2 linked regions of the Homo sapiens genome follow. Changing the gene in region 2 together with the main gene of any one other region gives a genetic interaction. Each region holds a gene or a part of one and is shown on either strand. Other genes may lie near its edges.

Evidence for each region.
Region 1: changes in ASPM (region 2) and CPPED1 together harm fitness more than expected from each alone (negative genetic interaction), as found in Homo sapiens cells (one study listed by BioGRID).

The regions. Positions count from the first base shown.
Region 1 is NC_000016.10:12,700,680-12,711,041, reverse strand, and holds part of CPPED1 (serine/threonine-protein phosphatase CPPED1), read left to right. Parts: intron 1-5,992; coding exon 5,993-6,418; intron 6,419-10,362. UniProt on the Homo sapiens protein: Protein phosphatase that dephosphorylates AKT family kinase specifically at 'Ser-473', blocking cell cycle progression and promoting cell apoptosis. May play an inhibitory role in glucose uptake by adipocytes.
Region 2 is NC_000001.11:197,143,612-197,154,532, reverse strand, and holds the start of ASPM (abnormal spindle-like microcephaly-associated protein), read left to right. Parts: upstream 1-7,863; 5' UTR 7,864-8,095; coding exon 8,096-8,392; intron 8,393-10,432; coding exon 10,433-10,576; intron 10,577-10,722; coding exon 10,723-10,921. UniProt on the Homo sapiens protein: Involved in mitotic spindle regulation and coordination of mitotic processes.

The sequences.
Region 1 (10,362 bases), on a different chromosome or scaffold from region 2:
GAGCATAGGTGTACAAACATCTCTTTGAGACCCTGCTTTCAGTTATTTTGGGGACTCAGATATAGAATTGTTGGATTATCTGGTAATCCTACGTTTAATTTTTGGGGGAGCCACCATATTGTTTTCCACAGTGGCTACACCATTTTTCATTCCCATCAACAATGCACCAGGTTTCCATTTTCTCCACATCCTCACCAATACCTGTTATTTTCTGTCTCTTTGATAGTAGCTATCCTCATGGGTATGAAGTGGCGTCTCATTGTGGTTTTGATTTGCATTTCTTTAATAAGTAGTCGTGTTGGGCACCTTTTTAATGTCCTTATTGGCCATTTATATATCCTCTTTGGAGAAATGTCTGTTCAATCCTTTGCCAACTTTTGAGTTAGGTTGTTTTAGTGGTTGTTGAGTTTTAGGAGTTCTCCATATACTCTGATATTCATTCCCTATCAGATATTTAATTTGAGAATATTTTCTCCCATTCTGTGGTTTGCACTTTTTTCTCTGTTGATAGTGTCTTTTGATGCACAAACGTTTTGCATTTTCATGAGGTCCAATTTGTCTGTTCCCCCCCTCCTTTTTTTTTTTTTGGCCTGTAACAATACATCAAATTTTATATTCAAAATGACCTTTTGATTTCTACCTGTAACCTATTTCTCTCCTAGTCTTTTCCCTGACAGTAAACAACATGACCAGCCTCCCAGTTGCTCAGATGTCTGGGAATTAATTTTGAGTCCTTCCTGTAACCAGTACAATGAGGATTCCTGTCAGTTCTACCTCCCAAATATCTCTTAAATCCTTCTTGTTAAACCTCTAATTTTTATATTATGTTAGGATGTAGAAATACTGTTGATTTTTATATATTTACTTTGCATCCAAGCTAATTTCTCTTATTAGTGCTAAGAGTCTTTGATGTTTTGTTCTTTTGTTTTTTGTAGATTATTTGGGATTTTCTGTGGAGACAGTCTTCTGAGAATTGACTGATTTCTTTCTTTCTAATCTGTATGCCCTTTCCTTTCCTTCCCTCCCTTCCTTCCCTTCCTTCCTTCTCTTCTCTTCCCTTCCTTCCTTCCTTGCCTTCCTTCCCTTCTTTCCTTCCTCCCTTCCTTCCCTTCCTTCCCTTCCTTCCCTTCCTTCCCCCCGTCTTTCCCTTCCTTCCCTTCCTTCCCTGACTGCCTGCCTGCCTGCCTATTGCACTGGCTAGGATTTCTAGTATGATGTTCAGTGAGAGTGTGAGAGCAGACTTCCTTGTCTTGTTCCTGATCTTGGAGGAAGGCAGTCAGTCTTTCACCATTACCTATGATCATAGCTATACTTGTTTACAGATGTCCTTTATCCAGTTAAGGATGTTTATTTCTCTTCCTAACTCACAAAGAGATTTTATTAGACAATGTATTTTAAGGCTATTTGGAAAACAACCAAGATACTAATGTCTGCCTTAATGAATATGGACAAAAATAAATCATACCTCTCACAGTACCACTGATACAAATAAGAATTTTGTAATTATCGTTATCATGCTTTTTACCTCCTAGTTTTATTTTGACCAATTGCATTAAAATTTTTTTAAGTGTTTTAAACGCTTTGCAGCTTTCTACACTGCTCTCGCCATTCCCACCCAGGGCTCCTCTCCGTGGGGGTCAGGTGTGTGCTGACATTGGGGTCCCTGTACTCTTGGCACCCACTTCTCAGCAGATACCTCTTATCCACCTTGGAGACCCCAGAACAATCCTTCTCTGCCCCTCTTCTGAGTCATGTCTTGCCATTTTTCAGAGTCTTTCCCCTTGTTTCCCTGCCTTTCTTCCTGTCCTTTATATACATTCTTTTTGTGAACATAGAACCCTGCGTGAGACAGGAAACTCATTGAAGCTCTGTGTCCTTGGGCAGGTTTCTGTTTTTTCTGTTCATGATGCTGGTGAGGTTGGCTTTGGGCTTTGGGTTCTCATATATAATGGGACATTTTTGAGACAGAGTTTTGCTCTTGTCACCCAGGCTGGAATGCAATAGTGCGATATTGGCTCACTGCAACCTCTGCCTCCCGGGTTCAAGCAATTCTCCTGTCTCAGCCTCCTGAGTAGCTGGGATTACAGGCCCATGCCACCATGCCCAGCTAATTTTTGTATTTTTAGTAGAGATGGGGTTTTGTCATGTTAGCCAGGCTGGTCTCAAACTCCTGACCTCAAATGATCCTCCTGCCTCAGCCTCCCAAAGTCCTGGGAGTACAGGCATGAGCCACTGCACCCAGCCACAATGGGACTATTTTTCAGGAAGCTCTGCTAAGTTGTGCTATGATCTTTGTTAATACTAAGTTGTTGTTAATATAGTACGTAACCCTACAGAGATTCTGTTACATGCAAATGAGAGCTTGTTAAAGATCATGCAAATGTTGGCATTCAACTTGGGTTTTTGTAATCTAGGATTTACTCTTTTATTTCCAGATTCTTAACTAAAAACTATTTCTGTCCCTGGGGAAGATTTTCATTCCTTCTGAAACGATTTACTGGTTGTTATGCACACACAGTGGGTCGCTGATAAAAATGGAAGAATTTATTACATTTAGGGGGATGGGATGTGGAAAGCAGACAGCTGACAGCTTTGCATTCTTGTTTGTACCAGACTCTAGACATCATTATCTTAGTAGGAATTCTTACAGCCATTCCTGAGGTATGGGAATTATCATCCCCATTTCATACACGATGAAACCAAGACTCAGAGGAACCAAGGGACTTACCTAAGGCCATGCAGCTTGTAAGGGGCAAGAGACCAACCCCAGGGCACACTCACTCCACCTCAGCACCTGTGACTCCATGCAAGAGGTATAGAAAGTGTTGGAAAAGCTACACAAGAAAGAGGCTCATCTTTTTTTTTTCCAACAATAAATAAATAAATAATTTTTTTGAGACAGAATCTCACTCTGTTGCCCAGGCTGGAGTGCAGTGGCACGGTCTCAGCTCACTGCAACCTCTGCCTCCCGGGTTCAAGCGATTCTCCTGCCTCAGCCTCCCGAGTAGCTGGGACAACAGGTGTATGCCACCATGCCTGGGTAATTTTTCTATTTTTAGCAGAGTTGGGGTTTCACCATGTTGGCCAGGTTGGTGTTGAACTCTTGACCTCAAGTTGTCTGCCCGCCTAGGCCTCCCAAAGTGCTGGGATTATAGGCATGCATCAGTACGCCCTGCCAAGAGGCTCATTTTTGCTGAAGGAAATTTAGGGAAGATGAGCTGCGTTTTTTTTTTAACAGATTACTGGGGGATATTGGTGGTTTCCCCAAAAGCAGCATCCCTCTTTGTTTGGAAACACACATCACATTACTGTGTGTAATTCCCAGCTCTTCCTTGTTGGTTGCTTCCTAGACAAGGTTTCCTTCCCAAGTCAGCCTTTCTTTTGAACTGCCCCTTCTTAACTTTTCTGTTTATGGTCATTAGGGATTCGGACATTTTTCCATACCTGCCTCAGTTAGCATGTGAGGGGCCATACTTAATGACTTTGAAAATCAAGAACAGGAGATGCTCTGCACCCCAGTGTATTATAAAGTCCTCATCCTGTGTCTCAGGGCAGCCAGGAGAAGTCATCCTGAGAGCAACGACCTTAGTTTGTGACCAGGACACTGTAGACAGCACCTTGAGCCAGACCACCAAGTTCAAATCCCCACTCCTCCACTGGGTGTCCAGAGGAAGCAAGTCGGTGCACACACAGCTCTGAGAACAGTGCCTGGCCTGTAGGAAGTGCTAAGAAGTATTGTCAGTGATTGAATATCCCAAAATCCCCAAGTCAGTGTGAACAGAAAGAAGAAGAAGTGAGAGGGGCGGCTTTGAGGTCTTTGAGAAAATCCAGTGAGGAAAGTGGTAATGAATCAGCCTTGGACCACAAGGGTCGCTTTGAGAGAGTTTGTTGTGTTCAAAGCTACAAAGGACTTGTCTTTCCTAAACTGGCATGGGAAAAGAACCAGACACTGGAGTCTTAGAGAGGATCATGTAAGTCAGCACAGATGCCTGCAGTCCGGGTTCGGCTAAAGAAGCAATGTCAATCAATGGCACCTTCGATGCAGACGGTAGGTGAATGAACCCCCAGCACCCCTGAGAGAGAGGCCTCCTGGTTTCTGGTGCAGGCAGAACCTGCTTCTCCCTAAGGCTCCCTCCACTAGGCTTCAGGCCGTGCAGCCACCTCTCACCTCTGGACACCAGTGGAATGGGCTCGGGAAAGGCTGGCTGACCCCTGCAGCAGGAGTTGGGGTCTGAAGCCCAGTCTGCTCAGCCTCCTGTGGAAGCAGGTCGTGCCTGCTCCAGGGACCGAGAGTCCTCTCTTCCAGGGGTGCTAGGGTTTGTCTGCAGTCCACATTGGCCTCATGGCTGGTCTGAGTTGATCCAGGCTGGCCCTGGGGCTGCCAGTCCAAACATTCATTCCAGCCACCTGGCTGGCTTCCTCAATCTTCTTTAAGCCCCAGAACCATGGAGTCAAAATCTTTGAGTTTTTTTTTTTTTTTTTTTTCGGTGAAAATTATACATAAGCTTGGGAAAAGGGAGGAAGGAAAGAAGGAAGGGAGGAAGGAAAGGAAGGGAGAAAGGAAAGGAAGGAAGGAAGGAAGGGAGAGAGGCAGGGAAAGAAAGAAAGTATTTAGGTTGGTGCAAAAGTAATTGCAATTTTTGTCATTACTTTCAGTGGCAAAAACTGCAATTACTTTTGCACCAACCTAATATAAAGGGTTTTAAACCAAGTGTAAGACTCCCTCCCTCTCTGCTTCTGTTTCCTGGATTTAACCAGAGTTAACAGTTTTCTTTGAATCTTGGGGGACATTTTATCCATAATACATGAATACATGTGAGGCTTTTAAAAATTTGTGTGTGATTTTATTCCTCTGTGCCTTATATTATTAACTTACTATATATTAAAGATTTTCTCATAGCATTAATATAGATCGCCTGTTTCTTATCTTGATATTTATTTATTTCATTAGGGTTAAATATAAAACTATTGCAGTGAGATATTGAAATTCTGAACTCTTACACGTCTAACAATGTAACTAAAAGTAAATGACGTGAACCTTGGCAGAATTACAGAAAGAGACAGATCAATCCACAGTTACAGCGACAACTTAACCAAGTCTCTCAGAAACAAATATACATCAACAGGCCGAAAGAAAAGGATAATGACACAGAAAATTTGAACCACACCATTAATGAGTTTGATTGAGTAGAAATATGAGGAACTTGGTATTCAACAGTGAAAGAACGCATGTTCTGCCCGGCGCGGTGGCTTACGCCTGTAATCCCAACACTTTGGGAGGCTAAGGCAGAGATTCGCTCTTGTTGCCCAGGCTGGAGTGCAATGGCGTGATCTTGGCTTACTGCAACCTCTGCCTCCCGAGTTCAAGCGATTCTCCTGCCTCACCCTGCCGAGTAGCTGGGATTACAGGTGCCCGTGCCCATGCCCAGCTAATTTTTGTATTTTTAGTAGAGACGGGGTTTCACCATGTTGTCCAGGCTGGTCTCGAACTCCTGACCTCAGGTGATCCACGTGCCTCGGCCTCCCTAAGTGCTGGGATTACAGGCATGAGCCACCACGCCCAGCCTAATTTTCTTTTTTATGAAGACAGGGTCTCACTGTAGTGCCCAGGTTTGTCTCATAATTCCTGGGCTCAAGTGATCCCTCCCACCTCAGCCTCCCCAAGTGTTGGTATTACAGGTGTGAGCCACTGTACCCAGTCCACTAATATTTAATCTCAGGATTGACTTCACACCATCACTCAGCAACATAGGGCAGGGGGCCATGTAGTCATGGAATTTCTAAGGTATCCTGGGGAAGGATGGGCAGAGGCCCCCGTCGGACTTGTTGGTTTGCTTTTAGCACGTGACTGCATTTTGCAGTTTCCATGTGCTAGGTGGAGTGGATTTCCAGATTACTCTTTTTTTAAATTTTATGTTAGTAAGTACTTAAGTTAGTTATTTCAAGTGAATAAGCCCCTGGCTTTCTCAGGACGTGACCCTCACTCTTCCAGGGAAGCCGTGGCGGACGGAGCAGACGGAGGACCTGAAGCGAGTGCTTAGGGCAGTGGACAGGGCCATCCCACTGGTCCTTGTCAGCGGCAACCATGACATTGGCAACACCCCCACGGCCGAGACCGTCGAGGAGTTCTGCCGGACTTGGGGAGATGACTACTTCAGCTTCTGGGTCGGGGGCGTCCTGTTCCTGGTCCTCAACTCCCAGTTCTACGAGAACCCCTCCAAATGCCCCAGCCTGAAGCAGGCTCAGGACCAGTGGCTGGACGAGCAGCTGAGCATCGCGAGGCAGCGGCACTGCCAGCATGCCATCGTCTTCCAGCACATCCCGCTGTTCCTGGAGAGCATCGACGAGGACGACGACTACTACTTCAACCTCAGCAAGTCCACTCGGAAGAAGTTGGCAGACAAGTTCATCCACGCAGGTAGAGGCCCCGGGCCACGGGTTTCAGGGAGGAAGGACAAGTCTAGAGAGGGCATTTCCAGATCTTTCTCCCGTCTCTCTGCAATGTGTCAAAAAGGGAGAGAGGACTAGGCCGGGAGTTCTGATACCAGCTCTTGGACTTGCAGACTGCATGTCTGGCTAGTTAATCCTCCTGTGCCTCAGTTTCCTCGTCTATAAAACAGGAATAGTAATAGTAGCCTTATTGCAGGATGGTGTCAAGGATTAAATGAGAAAGGCCTCCAAGACATGGAGAACAGACCCTAGCCTAAGTACTCAGTGTGCCATAGCTGCTCACAGTTGAAGATTGGAGTTCTGGAAGTGGCAGGAGGGGTTTATTGGGGGAAGTAGACTGGGTAGTGCAGGTGGGTGTGAATGTGGCTTGCATGTGCCTTGGGAGAAGGCAAGATGCCAGGGACATCTGCTTTCACTTCTCTGGGAAGCAGGCACCTTGCTCAAGGGCAGACGATCTTTAAGAGTCAAGCTGCCCTCCAGTATTCATCAGCTGTGACTCAGGAAATCCTGGGATGTGGCTTTAGCGGACAGTTCCTGGGGCCTGATCAGTTTTCCTCTGCCAAGGTAGATTAAGTTCTCCTCCAGAATCAGGAGAGAGTAACGGATTTAGTCCCATCTTTTGCTGCCAGTGATATATGTGACAGACACGTGCACGCACAGAATGAAGACCCTCCATTTCTGGAGGTCACACCTCAATTTCTGATGGCACTCTAAGGCACTAGCCCACCCACCTCCTTTATCTTTCTGGTAGCACCTGCCATGGGCCTTTCAAGAGAAACAGTCTGTTCTAGGCAGATTCCCTGGGTTACCAGTGATTTGGCAAATTCCAGTTTTGACAACTGTTGTGTCTCTTCTCTTTGTCCTCGTTCTTCCTTTCACCAGGGCTTACTTTTTTTTTTTTTTTTTTTTTGAGACAAAGTCTTGTTCTGTTGCCCAGGCTGGAGTGCAGTGGCAAAATCTCGGCTCACTGCAACCTCCGCCTCCCAGGTTCAAGTGATTCTCATGCCTCAGCCTCCCAAGTAGCTGGGATTACAAACGCTGACCACCACGCCTGGCTAATTTTTGTACTTTTAGTAGAGATGGGGTTTCACCATGTTGTCCAGGCTGGTTCCAAACTCCTGACCCCAAGTGATTCACCCACCTTGGCTTCCCAAGGCCACGGGACGTGATCAGTTTTCCTCTGGTGAGGTGGATTAAGTTCTCCTCCAGAATCCGGAGAGAGTAACGGATTTAGTCCCATCTGGGAATACAGTGCTGGGATTACAGGTGTGAGCCACCCCACCCAGCGGAACATTTTGTATTTTCAAGACATTTTGCAATAAGCTCACATAATTGGAGATGTTTTCCAGCTGTTCCATGGAGATAAAGTTAGAAAACTTCTATTAAGTCGTTTGAAATTTCATGCCATGCTTGAGTTGGTGCAGAAAACTGTCTTGATGACAAGGAAACAAAGCGTCAAGGCGGCATGAGCACCACCATGGAGACTATTCTGTAGTGGAGAATAAAGCCAGAGAGAACATTTAATGCCATTGAAGTGATTCCTTTCATATCCAATGGTATTTCTTTTTTTTTTTTTTTTGAGACGGAGTCCCGCTCTTGTCACCCAGGCTGGAGTGCAGTGGCACCATCTCGGCTCACTGCAACCTCTGTCTCCTGGGTTAAAGCAATTTTTCTGCCTCAGACTGCTGAGTACCTGGGATTACAGGCACCCATCACCATGTCCAGCTAGTTTTTGTATTTTTAGTAGAGACAGTTTGGCCAGGTTTAGTTTCACCATGTTGGCCAGGCTGGTCTCGAAACTTCTGACGTCAGGTGATCCACCCACCTCGGCCTCCCAAAGTGCTGGGATTACAGGTGTGAGCCACCGCAGCTGGCCAGATCTAATGTTAGATGATGTAAAGCCCATGACTGCCCTGAGTTCTTTGTTCTTGTTCTTGTTGACCACATTCCTGAGTGGTATGTAGTTCTGTGGTTTTCCCCTTGTAGGACAGAGCACCCCCAGATACTGAGAAGACTCACAGTTCTAATTTTTTCTATTGATTGATTGATTGATTGATTGAGAGTCTTGCTTTGTCACCCAGGCTGGCGTGCAGTGGCGTGATCATGGCTCACTGCAGCCTCGACCTCCTAGGCTTAAACAATCTTCCCACCTCTACCTTCTGAGAACCTGGGACTATAGGCACACACCACCATGCCCAGCTAATTTTTTTAATTATTTGTAGAAACGGGGTCTGACTGTGTTGCACCTCACTGGGCTTTAACTCCTGGCCTCAAATGATCCCCCTGCCTTGGCCCCCCGAAGAGTTTAAATTACAGGTGTGAGCTCTAACAGGGCACCCTTGGGAGAAGCCTGTTGACCACCCACCAAGGGCCCTACAGGGTGGCATCATATCCATGATGCCCCAGCCCCCTGCCCACTCAGATCTGCAACCCCTCAAGCACAGGAACCAGAGTTGCTGGCAAACCAAGAGCTGGTCTGTGTCTCCAATTATCCCAGCTCCCAGAGACTGATAGCTACAAACCAGAATGGCAGTTGATTAATTTAGAGCAAGACCGCAGCCCTGGCCTCCACCCCAGCGGTGCTTTCTCTTCCCGTAGGCAGAGCTACATGGGAAGCCCAATTATAATCAGGAGGCTGCTTGGTAGGCATGAGAAAACAGGGGGGTTAGCTGCCTTATTCCACTCTCAGTGACATCAGGCGCTGGAATCCAATGGCTCCATCTCCGGAGGAGCTCGCTAGCTGAAGGCACTTGGTTATTTCATGTCCCTTTAATTCTACCTCCTTCGTGTCTCTGTAGCCTGTCCACTGTCTCATCTGGGTCTTAGCAGCAGCTCTGCACTGTGCTCCCCACTCTGCTCTTACCCATTCTAGTTCATTCTGCACCTAACAGCAAGATGGGTGTGTAACTGACTGCAAAGCATGAGGCTTCCCTCCACCCCCAGGTCCGGCCCAGCTCTTCACTGCAGTGTCCAGGGCCCTTCTCAGTCACATCTGCCTTCCCCTCCAGCCTCTTCTGGTTCACCTGCCTAGGCCCACTCAACAATTTTTTGTTTGCTGAGACATTCTCACTCTGTCACCCAGGCTGTAGTGCAGTGGCATGATCTCGGGTCACTACCACCTCCTCCACCTCCCAAGTTCAAGTGATTCTCCTGCCTCAGCCTCCCGAGTAACTGGGATTACAGGCGCGCACCACCATGCCTGGCTAATTTTTGCATTTTTAGTAGAGATGGGGTTTCACCATGTTGGCCAGGATGGTCTTGAACTCCTGACTGACCTCAAGTGATCTGCCCGCCTCAGCCTCCCAAAGTGCTGGAATTACGGGTGTGAGCCACCACACCCGGCCTCAACATTTTTTTTTTCTTGAGATGGAGTCTTACTATGTCACTCAGGCTGGAGTGCAGTGATGTGATCATAGCTCACTGCAGCCCTGGATTCCTGGGCTCAAGTGATCCTCCCACCTCAGCCCCCTAAGTAGCTGGGACTACAGGGGAGTGCCACGATGCCTGGCTAATTTTTTTATTTTTTGCAGAGATGGAGGTCTCACTGTGTTGCCCAGGCTGATATCAAATTCCTGGCCTCAAGTGACCCTCCCGCCGGGGTATCCCAAAGTGCTAGGATTACAGGCATGAGACACCACATCCCGCCTCCCACTCAACTTTGACATCTTCTGTATAAGGCTCTCCCCTCCTCCCCACCCCAGGTTCTTCAGCTTCTCTTATCCCAGCACTTGTCAGGTGGATTTGCAAGTGTTGACTTGTCTGAATCCCCGCTAAACTCTCAGCTCCCTGAGGGCAGGGACAGGGTCATATTCAGCTATGCAGTTGGGAGACCTGGCTCAGATATTAGCTCATAATAAATGTTTTATCAGTATTTGTGGAATGAATGAATGAAAGTCTTTGGGCCAGGTGTGG
Region 2 (10,921 bases):
GAGAAAAAGAAGGTTTTTGTAGAGAGAGTGCTTATGTTTTGTTTACTCATGTTTCAACTTGCTGTGTATGATCATAAATCTATGATCTTGAGAAAAATCCTAAAACAATTTAAATTTAGCCTATGCAGCCAATTACATAAAGAGAAATTAAGGATTATATTCAGAGGAGAAATTAAGGATTATATTTAGAGCACAGAGGTTATACAAAGAATATAACCTTGTTTGGTCAAATTCTTAGGTAAAGAAAAGTAATCAATGCTTGCATTGCTGTTGGAGATTCTAAAAGATGTATTGAATGAAGAGGATGTACACATCTCATTGTTACTGCGTATTTTTTTGCTTGGTATTCCTGCTTGCATTAAAGCTGGACAATGTACTGTGATGTAATTACAAAATTTTTATTCCTTCTAACGATTGAACTCTTCTTATCCCTATTGATAAAACTGTATTACAATTGATGAGTGTGGCTGCCAGAAAATAATACAAAACTGGGCATTTAGCTGTTCCACATTGTGTAGTAAATGTTTTGATTATGGGGATTTACAGTGTATATTAAAGTAGAAATGCTTTTGCACTTGTTTTCAGTCTCAAATAATAATTTTTGTTTTTAATTAAGGATACTTTAAAAGCAATGACAGAAAAATCTAAAATATCAGAATTAATTATTGTGAACTGTGTGTAAAATATCTTGTGAGTTTTATACATACTTTGGTTGTCTGATGTTTCCTAAGTATAAATGTCTTTATAGAAAATTTCAGTTCTCTGTGAAGAGTAGGAAGTGTACTGTATATTGAACTAGTTCTTTGTGTTACTTTGATATTTAAAATAAATATAAAGTTCTTTGGTCCTAATACAGCATATCTAGGTTTTATTGAACCACATTTTCACAGGATGGGAATGCAGTACTCTGAAACCAAGTAACTTGCAGCACATTTTAAAACATTTTCTCATAAGCTATATGTTTTGAAATATTTTATATATTAAATGTATAAACCATTAAACTAATTTTAAGTGTAATATAAATTCAAATATTAGTGATGACTTTTATGCTTGAAGTAGTCATATTATGCTGTTTTTTAGAGAGAAGTCTGAAGTGTAGTAAAATTCATTAGTGAAATGAGTTATTCTGTATAATATTGAGAGGGGCCACTCTTACCTCTAATCCCCCTCACTCCCAGAAACATACATTCTGGCTATGGGAGAAATGGTTGTTGGTTGAAAGCATAAACTGTAGGCTATAGGATGGTACCCCCAAACTTGCAAGTTGTTATCCCTATCTGGCACCATAAGTGAGCCTCCAATAGACTTTCTCTATTTTATCTCAGCAGCTGCTTCTGAGTGTTAGAAGACCAGTAAATTCTATAGGCATGAGCACATTTCTGCAAAATGAGTTTTCTGATTATAGCCAATGTCGTGTGTGATACTTAGTTTACTATTGCTGTCTAATACATTATACCGAACTTAGTGGCTTAAAACAACAAACTTTTATTACCTCCAAGTTTCTGTGGGTAAGGAATCTAGGCCGGATTTAGCTGGGTGGTTTTAGCTCAGGGTCTTTCATGAGATTGAAATCAAGCTGTTAAGTCAGTTGCCATCTCTAGAGGCTTCACTGGGGATGGCTTTACTTCCAAGCTCACTCGTGGTCTTTGGCCTTAGTTCATCACATGGCCTCTCCACAGGGCTGCCTAGTGATATGGCAACTGCCTGCCCCGCCTTCCCCCCACCCCTCCACACACACACCACTTTCCTGAAAGCAATCCAAAAAAGAGAGCGTACCCAGGATTTCAGTTGTTGTCTTTTTATAACCTAATCTTGGAAGTGATATAGTATCACTTCTGTATTCTATTGTCACTAATTCTAGTCCACATGCAAGGGACACAAATTAAACTCCCTCTCTTGAAGAGAGGATAGCAACAAATTTTTGGACATATGTGAAAACCATTACATATTCATTGGTTTATAGATAAAGCTTTCTGTAAATATATATATAATGGGGGCAGGTACAGTAATCTATACTCAGAAAAATATATTTATCCCAGAGAGGAAGAATATTGCATCTTCCATAATAGAAAGCGTTCAATGTAACCACATGCCACAGGTAGTTAGCTGGTCCCACTGGAGAATGGAATTAGACTGGATGTTCAGCATCAGCCTCTTTCAGTAGGTTAAGCACTCCACAGGGGCTTATCACATCAGCTTTGGCAAGGGAAACCACCTTGAGCCCATTCTTATCCTCCACCACTGCTGCCATAGCCACTTTCTAAATGGGTTCAACGCGCAAGCAAATGGATCTCTGGGGGAAGAAGCTGACCTCCACAGGATAGATTGTCCTTTTTACCTGATTTTTGAGCTCCTTCTCAGCCATGGATATTCTCTGATGGGCATTTACATGGAACACAAATTTAACTTCCTATACCTATTTTGAGAAGCCCTTTTATATACCGCTCCTCCCCAGACCAAGCTGTCACCAATTTTCCATTTTGTTTTCTCCAAAGGTTTGACCAGCTGGCCAACCTGTCAGCCATTATCCATGAATCAGCACAGAGCTTTACCTTAGGCCATGTTCTCTTCCTTATGAAGTGGACTACCAAACATACCATCCAGAATTCTCACTGAGAGTATTCCCATCCACCCCTAAGGAGAAGCTGTAATGTAAGTCTGTTTATGTCTGACCTACTATACAGCTTCATTCATAAATCAGGCCTTTTTTCTTGTGAAATTATCATTAAGAGATACCCAGTTTTTCCTGTGTAGTTTGAGAGAGAGGGAAGTGGCAAAGTAGTAGAAGTAGTAAAAGATACTTACTAAAATCTGAATCACCTGTTTGTATCACTTACTTGTGTATTTGGGGCCTGCTTAGCCCTGGTCTTGTAGATTCTGCTTTTGTTTGATAGTGCAATGTTGCTCTTCACATCAAATTTTATGGTCCTTGAGATTAGATCCCAGGTCAGCAAATATTTCGTAAAGGGCCAGACACTAAATATTTTAGGCTATACAAGCTATATGTTTTCTATCACAGCTATTCTGCCATTGCAGTGTGAAGGCATAGACAATATGTAAATAAATGCTTATGGCCTTGCTCCAGTAAAACTTTATTTGCCAAAAAAAAAAAAAAAAAAAAAAGCCAATGGGTCAGATTCAGCCCTTAGGCCATAGTTTGCTGATCCCTGGATTAGGTAATAGTTGATAATAAACAGTTTGTATCACAGTCACTTATAGTCCTTTGATGAGGCATTCAGTCTCTACCATACCTAATAGCATAATTAGGATCTGTTTTTCAAATGATAGATGATTTTCTGCAGAGGAAGGCATAGTCTTATTCTCCAAACCTGGAATTTTGTACTGTGATACTTCTCTGGAAACTTGCCAGAGCTTCTATTCCACATCTTGGATTGTCATGGAATGAGTGTTTTGGGCCATTGCAGCCCAGACCTACTGCAGAGATCTTACTTGTTCCAGGCCTAACTCAAAAATGTCAGTCTTAGAGTTTACTAGGTAAATGGTTTGGTGAGATGTGTCTTAATAATGCATGCATTGCCTCCAAAATCTAAAGAGGCTTTACAAATGATACAAAGTACAAGTTGCCTCTTATTTTAGAAGAGATAGCCTGACATGTCTCAGACCATTGGATCCCTAAAAACTTTACAGATGTGATAGGACCCTGAACTTTGTCCCATCTGGTTTACATTTGTTTTATTATTGGCATCCACAGTGCTTGCTCCTGTTGAGAGATGCAACTTACCATGGGCTCTGAGCAGGCCTACACATTCTTGCTGGCTATGCTAAGAATGTGAAGCCCTTATTAATTTCTACATAGGCCATTTCTCAGGATTGTGTTTGCAGAAATCTTGAGGGACGATAGGATGTCTCCCTGCCCAGGCATAGTACTATAAAAACAGTCAAATCTCCAATTCGCTCTTCCTTTCCTGTAATACAACCCACTGTGTGTGCAGGCATCCATCAAGGGCCCTTTGTATGGTCCCATGAGACTTAGGAAGCAGGAGGAATCAATGTGAATGAACATGCTGACACTCTAGCTACTGTTTTTTCTGTGAATAATAAAGTCTTGTCTCTAACCCAAAACTGTCATATTTTCTGCTGGCCTTTATGAAACTGGCACGCTAACTCTTTAGCTTGCAAGAGGGATAAAATCTCAGACTCACACAATTCTTGACAAGTACTTCTTGCTCACCAGGTTTAATTAGCAAATGTCATCAATATAATGGACCAGTGTGATACTAAGATCCAGGTCTCTCTGAACAATATTACAGTATAGGTAGGAAATTTGACGAGCCCTGAGGCAGGACAGTAATGCTACAGCATTGTACCACTACTTAAGTACAAAGTGCTTCGGTTTTTCAATACTGGATGAATGGGGAAAAACAAGAAAAATGCATTTTGCTTGATTCATAGCTGCAAACCAGCTGACAAAGGTATGTTGATTTGTGTATAAAAATAACACATCTGAAACTGTAGTGTAATAATTGGCATCATCACCTAATTGCTATAATCTACTATCATTTTCCAGAATCTATCTGGCTTTTGCACTGGCCAAATAAGTGGAGAAAGTGGGTATATGGACAAAATCACTATCCCAACATCTCTCAGGTATTCAGAATAATCTCTGAATTGCCGTGGTGGGAAAATGGTGATTTTCAGGGGCTTCCACTTGGCCCTTTCTCCAATAATTGCCCTTGTTCCTTGGATCTAGGAACCAGTGTGAGAATGTGGTCAGTAAGTGTTCCTATTTTATATTCTGGAAATGGGTGGATCCAAAGGACACTTGGTAAGACAGATTCTGACTTAGATGCCATCTGTCACCGGTTCTTGAGAAGCTCTCACTATGTCTGGTGGTCCACAGTGACATTTTAGGATTCTGGAGTATAGCAGAAAGGCAGAGCTATTATCTCATTATCTAATAACCCTTAGGAAGTCAAGTTCCTGCCCCCAATCCATATTCATGTGGGTAAATGACTGCAGTTCCCTCTGGGGAATTGTTGAGAGAAGATTTATGGTATTCGTGTTGCAGGGTTCTTTCTAGTCAAGGAGCTTTGGGTGTATGAACTGTCTTAAGTTTGGAAAGTGGGTAAAAGGCATAACTGCCACAACATTGGCTTCAGTTAGGTTTTTTGCTTTGCATATGTGGTATTTCTCTGCCTATATATGTTAGGCAGCACCATAGTATATAGCTCATCTTATTTATAGGGCCCTTGAGAAACTGGCCATTGCCACAGATCCCTGCCTCTAATTACAATTCTGCCATTAGCATATTGTGGTAAGAACTATACCACCTTGTCTATTAAGTGCCAATCGACTTTGACCACTTGTGGATCATATAATTCACATGGAGATCAGAGAACCTATTTTCATTATTGATCCTCTATCATCATTTCTGGCCTATAAAAAATAGTCACCCAGGTCTTTTCATGGATGCTGGAGTCCTTTTTATTAGTTAATGCATTTATCAACACCTTGGTAAAAGGAGAATGGGTGGAGGGTGTGCATGTTTAGATGTGACTTGGCCAAGCAGGTTGCACATGTAGATTTTCTCCAACATTCCTATCTTCCTGAGCTTTTGGACTCCTTCGTGTACAGAATGCCAGGTAGTTTGAGCATTTTGACCTAACTGCCTGTTTTGTTTTTGTTTTTATAAAGACCATGTCTCACTTTGTTGCTGGTTTTTAACTCCTGGGCTCAAGCGATCTTCCTGTCTCAGCCTCCCAAAGTGCTGGAATTACAGGCATGAGCTACCGTGCCTGGCCTTGACCTACCTGACTGTAAACCACTACTGAGTTCAGTTTTCAATTAGTGAACCTATTAAACTATTAAAGCCATTCCCAGGTACTTCGGACATTGTATTAATTAAATGGGTAAAGTGCACCCATGACAATAAATTTGGCCTTATTGTTCCTTATGATTTGTCCTCTTGGTCTAACACCATTACATTCCACCTTAGACTGTCAAAATCTTTTAACTCTTTGCTGTATAGGCTGTTTCCTCCCTCCCACAGCATATCTTGCACTCTCCTCCGTCCAAGTTTTATTTTTTGGAGCCTAACTAAGCTAATGGAGAGGTCGTGGGGGGTAGATGCTGAGGAGAACTGGAAATGACTTGTGAGGCTCTGCTCCAGGGTTTTGTTTTGTTGTTTTTTTTTTTAAGCCTCTATGAAAGAATTTTTTTTTTTTTTTTTTTTTTTTTTGACAGCGTCTTGCTCTCTTGCCCAAGCTGGAGTTCAGTGCCATGATCTCGGCTCACTGCAACCTTGCCCCCACCCCCCACCCCAGGTTCAAGCGATTCTTCTGTCTCAGCCTCCGGGGTAGGTGGGATTACAGGCATGCTCCACCACGCCTGGCTAATTTTTTTATTTTTAGTGGAGACGGCATTTCGCCATGTTGGCCAGGCTGGTCTCAAACCCCTGACCTCAAGAATCCGCCTGCCTCAGCCTCCCAAAGTGCTGGGTTACAGGCTTGAGCCACCGTGCCCAGTGGAAAAATTTCGTTTAAATATTGTTAAGGTCCAACTTCAGGTGAAATTGGACACCATTGAATATAATTTCATGTCTCATCTTCCTTATTTTGATTTCCCATTGACTTCTCTTTTTACATGTTTTGTGTAACCATACATACATCCAGACATTATTTTTATTTTTTAAGTTTTCTACTGCCTTTAGAGGCAATATAGTGTAGTGGGTAAGAGCAAGACTAGGGCCAAACTGCTGGGATTACAGGCATGTGTACCTATCTGGGTTATGCCACTTCCTACTTAGCTGTATGACCTGTATTCCTCATCTGTAAGATACAAATAATGGTACCTACGCCCTAAGAGATACCTCGTAGGTTTAAGGCAAAGGTTGAGATAAATAGGTAAAGGATTTTTAAAAAATCCCTAGCCTAGGGTCGGGCGCCGCTCAGGCCTGTAATCCCAGCACTTTGGGAGGCCGAGGCGGAGGCAGGCGGATCACTTGAGGCCAGGAGTTCCAGACCAGCCTGGCCAACATGGCGAACTCCCCTCTCTACCAAAAATACAAAAATTAGCCAGTCGTGGTGAGGCGCGCCTCTAATTCCAGCTACTTGGGAGGCTGAGGCAGGAGAATCGCTTGAACCCGGGAGGCGGAGGTTGCAGTGAACCAAGATCACGTCACTGCACTCCAGCCTGGGAGACAGAGCGAGACTCCATCTCAAAATAAATAAATAATTTAAAAAATCCCTAATATGTAAGCTATAATTATTATTAGATCCCTACAATTGAAATAAAAACTAATAAGATATTTGTGAAGGGCATTGCCAGTCAAAACAATCATTTATGAATTACTGGTAATCTCAGGTTTCATTTGTTTACCTGGTTTTGCTCCCAGCGTCCCGAGGTAATTAACAGCATGTAAATGTACTGAGTCCCTGCTATGTTGTCACTAAAATAAGCATGTTCATACAAACTAATTATCTTTACATCTCTACCATTCAGCCCTGGAAACCGCGACAGTAAAGTTAATATAATTCTGGGCGGGGTATGCATATGAGAGGAGTGGCATAAACCAATTTTTGCCTACGTAACAGTTTTATCTATGATTGTTCCTGGAAACCGCAATGATTACTACATGTATTGTGGAAATGCTGTGACTCCCTTCCCTTCAGCACAACCAAAAATATAAAGACGAATTTCAATTCTAAGCCCCGGGTTTTAGACGGTGGCCAGGATTCCGCTACCGTTCTCACCTCCTCCGCAGATAGCGATTGGCGGCCGGATGCAATCATTCAAATGAAGCGCCGCCGTCTCATTGGCCAGGGGATGCTGCTCACCGATTGGTCCCGTGACGAGGAGGGCGGTGCCCGGAGGTCCTCATTGGTGGAGGCGGCAAGTTTAAACAGAGTCAAAACGCCATACTTGTTTGGCTCCTCTTTTTAATTTGCGAGTTTATTGGGCTTGTTTTCTGTTTTCTAGGGAGTAGGTTAGTGGAAAAGAAAAAGGGCCGAATTCACTCCCACGACCTCTACAGCCGCCCCTGAGGGGAAGCGGTCAGCGTAAGTCCCGGATCCCCGCTCCGGAGCCGCCTCGTGGGAGCGGGGCAAGGAGATCCAGGAGGGGTCTCGAATCTGCCATGGCGAACCGGCGAGTGGGGCGAGGCTGCTGGGAAGTGAGCCCGACCGAGCGGAGGCCGCCCGCGGGGCTGCGGGGCCCCGCGGCCGAGGAGGAGGCGTCTTCCCCGCCGGTCCTGTCTCTCAGCCACTTCTGCAGGTCTCCTTTCCTTTGCTTCGGGGACGTTCTCCTGGGAGCCTCACGGACGCTGTCTCTGGCCCTAGACAACCCTAACGAGGAGGTGGCAGAAGTGAAGATCTCCCACTTCCCGGCCGCGGACCTGGGCTTCAGTGTGTCGCAGCGCTGTTTCGTGTTGCAGGTAGGTCTCAGGAGGAGCGTGCTCCAGGCCGGTGTTCTGCTTCTCCGCTATCTTTCCTGCCACCCTCCTCAGGAAGGTTGACGATTGGAGAAGAAATCAGAAAAGACCCTTAGAGAATAAAGTCAGTTCCCTTTCACTCAATAACTGTGGGTGGCTCTTGGAAAAGAAATCAGAAAAGACCCTTAGAGAGTGAAGTCAGTTCCTTTTCAATAACTGTGGGTGGGCCCTTGACGCATACACATGTGTGTGAGTATATATATATGTGTCAATATTATATATATATATATATATATATTCTCTAATTGAAGGCTAGGATAGACGCTAACTTGGGCGGGGACAACACATAAACGCGCGCGCACTTAGCATCTTTAGGAGCAAGTTATATAGACTTCTCTGTTAAATTGACAAGCACTTTTACTAGACTTAAGGCGTTGTGAAATAGCCTTGCCGTTCTAAATTAATAGACAATGCACTTTTTTAACACTTTTTTAAGATTGACAGGAGTACCTTGGTTGGTTAAAGCAGCTTTTTTTAAAATTTCTATCAGCCATCTTAATATGCATTTTAGTTTCCATATGTACCCTTAGAGTCGAGGTAACTGGTTTTTTTTTCCGGTGAAATAGTGAGCTTTGTTCTGGCTAAATGCCTACAATAAAAACCAAAAAAACCTATTCAGAGTTGTTTTCAATATATACGTGTAGTATGTATGCACACTTTAGTATTTTAGTCCTTTTTTTCTTTGCTGTTAAGTGTAATTTTAATGCTGCATCAAATTTAATTTTATAAATGTTGTTTCAAGAACTCCTGTAGCTTTCTTTTACTGCATTGCATTTGCAAGAGTAATGCTCCAATCCCCTTCACCAAAGACTGGAGAATTTATGTTTTTATTTTGACTGCTGTGACCTTTCCATTGAGTAGAATCACCAAAAGTATGAAAACCGTTAGCCGAGGAGGTCTGAACTAGTAGGCTAATAACCACTTCATTAGGCAGAAAAAAGAGATTCTAATCTGAGGTCCCTTAACTTGTGTGTCACCAATGGTTCATCTATCTACACTTCAGAACCTACCCACCCCGCCCCTCTGTTTCATGAATCACTGCCTGCTTTCCTTTCTTTGGAAAGACAGATTTCTTTTCTATCCACATAATACTTCAACTTACTCTTTTTTGTTATAATGTGGAACTAAATTTTGTGGTATTTTTAGAATAAACTATTTTATAGAGTAAAAATGCACCATTCTTATTTTTTAAAATTAGTTGTTTATGATGTTATATTATTTCTCCTTTAAAACAGAAACTTGTCTGTTTCTCCTGAAAAACAAAATTTGTTTTGTCATGTCAGCGTTTAAATTTGGCAGATTCTGTCTACCTGCCAGGGTGTGGGGTGTAGATGTTAAAGTCCAAACTCTGGCATTAGACTGCCTGGGTTCTAATAGGTACCTGCGTGACTTTGGCAGACTTTTCTGGATGTTAGTTACTTCATCTGTAAAATGTGCATAATCATAATACCTGCTTCCTAGGGATGTTAGCATTAAATGAGTTTTACAGGATACCTGCACTTATGCCTGGAACAATAATACCTGTTTAAGAAATCTCAGTATGATGATGTGGACCTTAGAGGAATTTGTAAGGAAGAAGGAATTTAGCTGATCATCTTTACATTTCTTTTTAAATAAAGTCTTCATAATGCAGGGTCCTTGTGTTTGAAGTAGAAGTACTCTACACATCTAAAAATTAGAAATGTACAATTAAATCTTTTGAAACCACTCAAACAAAATGATTTAGAGACTATCTGTTCTATTGCTTTAATACAGTTAAGATTTTATTATTTATTTTGTTGTGAACCCTGTTATTTTTAGTGACTTTTTTTCTTATAATTAAGCAGATAGGGTAGGAGAAATATATTTGATTTATTAAATGTTTAGTATATAGAGTGTTGGTTAACAATTATTAAGCCCTACTATATTGTAAGTTGTATATAAGGTGTTTTGGTTATTATGTAATTACTATTGTAATTATATAATGTATTGTTTTGATTATAGCCTAAAGAGAAAATTGTTATTTCTGTTAACTGGACACCACTCAAAGAAGGCCGAGTAAGAGAGATTATGACATTTCTTGTAAATGATGTTCTGAAACACCAAGCTATATTACTAGGAAATGCAGAAGAGCAGAAAAAGAAAAAGGTAATGTTTTAACCATTCTGTGATTTACTCTAAGAAATTGTTTAATAATAAATAAAACTTATTTTGATAACAGGCTTGAAGTAATATTGCTTATTTAATATTCAATAGCTACAAACTTAATTGGTATATTTTCCTTATTTTTGCAGAGGAGTCTTTGGGATACCATTAAAAAGAAGAAAATTTCAGCCTCTACAAGTCACAACAGAAGGGTTTCAAATATTCAGAATGTTAATAAAACATTTAGTGTTTCCCAAAAAGTTGACAGAGTTAGGAGCCCACTACAAGCTTGTGAAAACTTGGCTATGAATGAAGGCGGTCCCCCAACAGAAAACAATTCTTTAATAC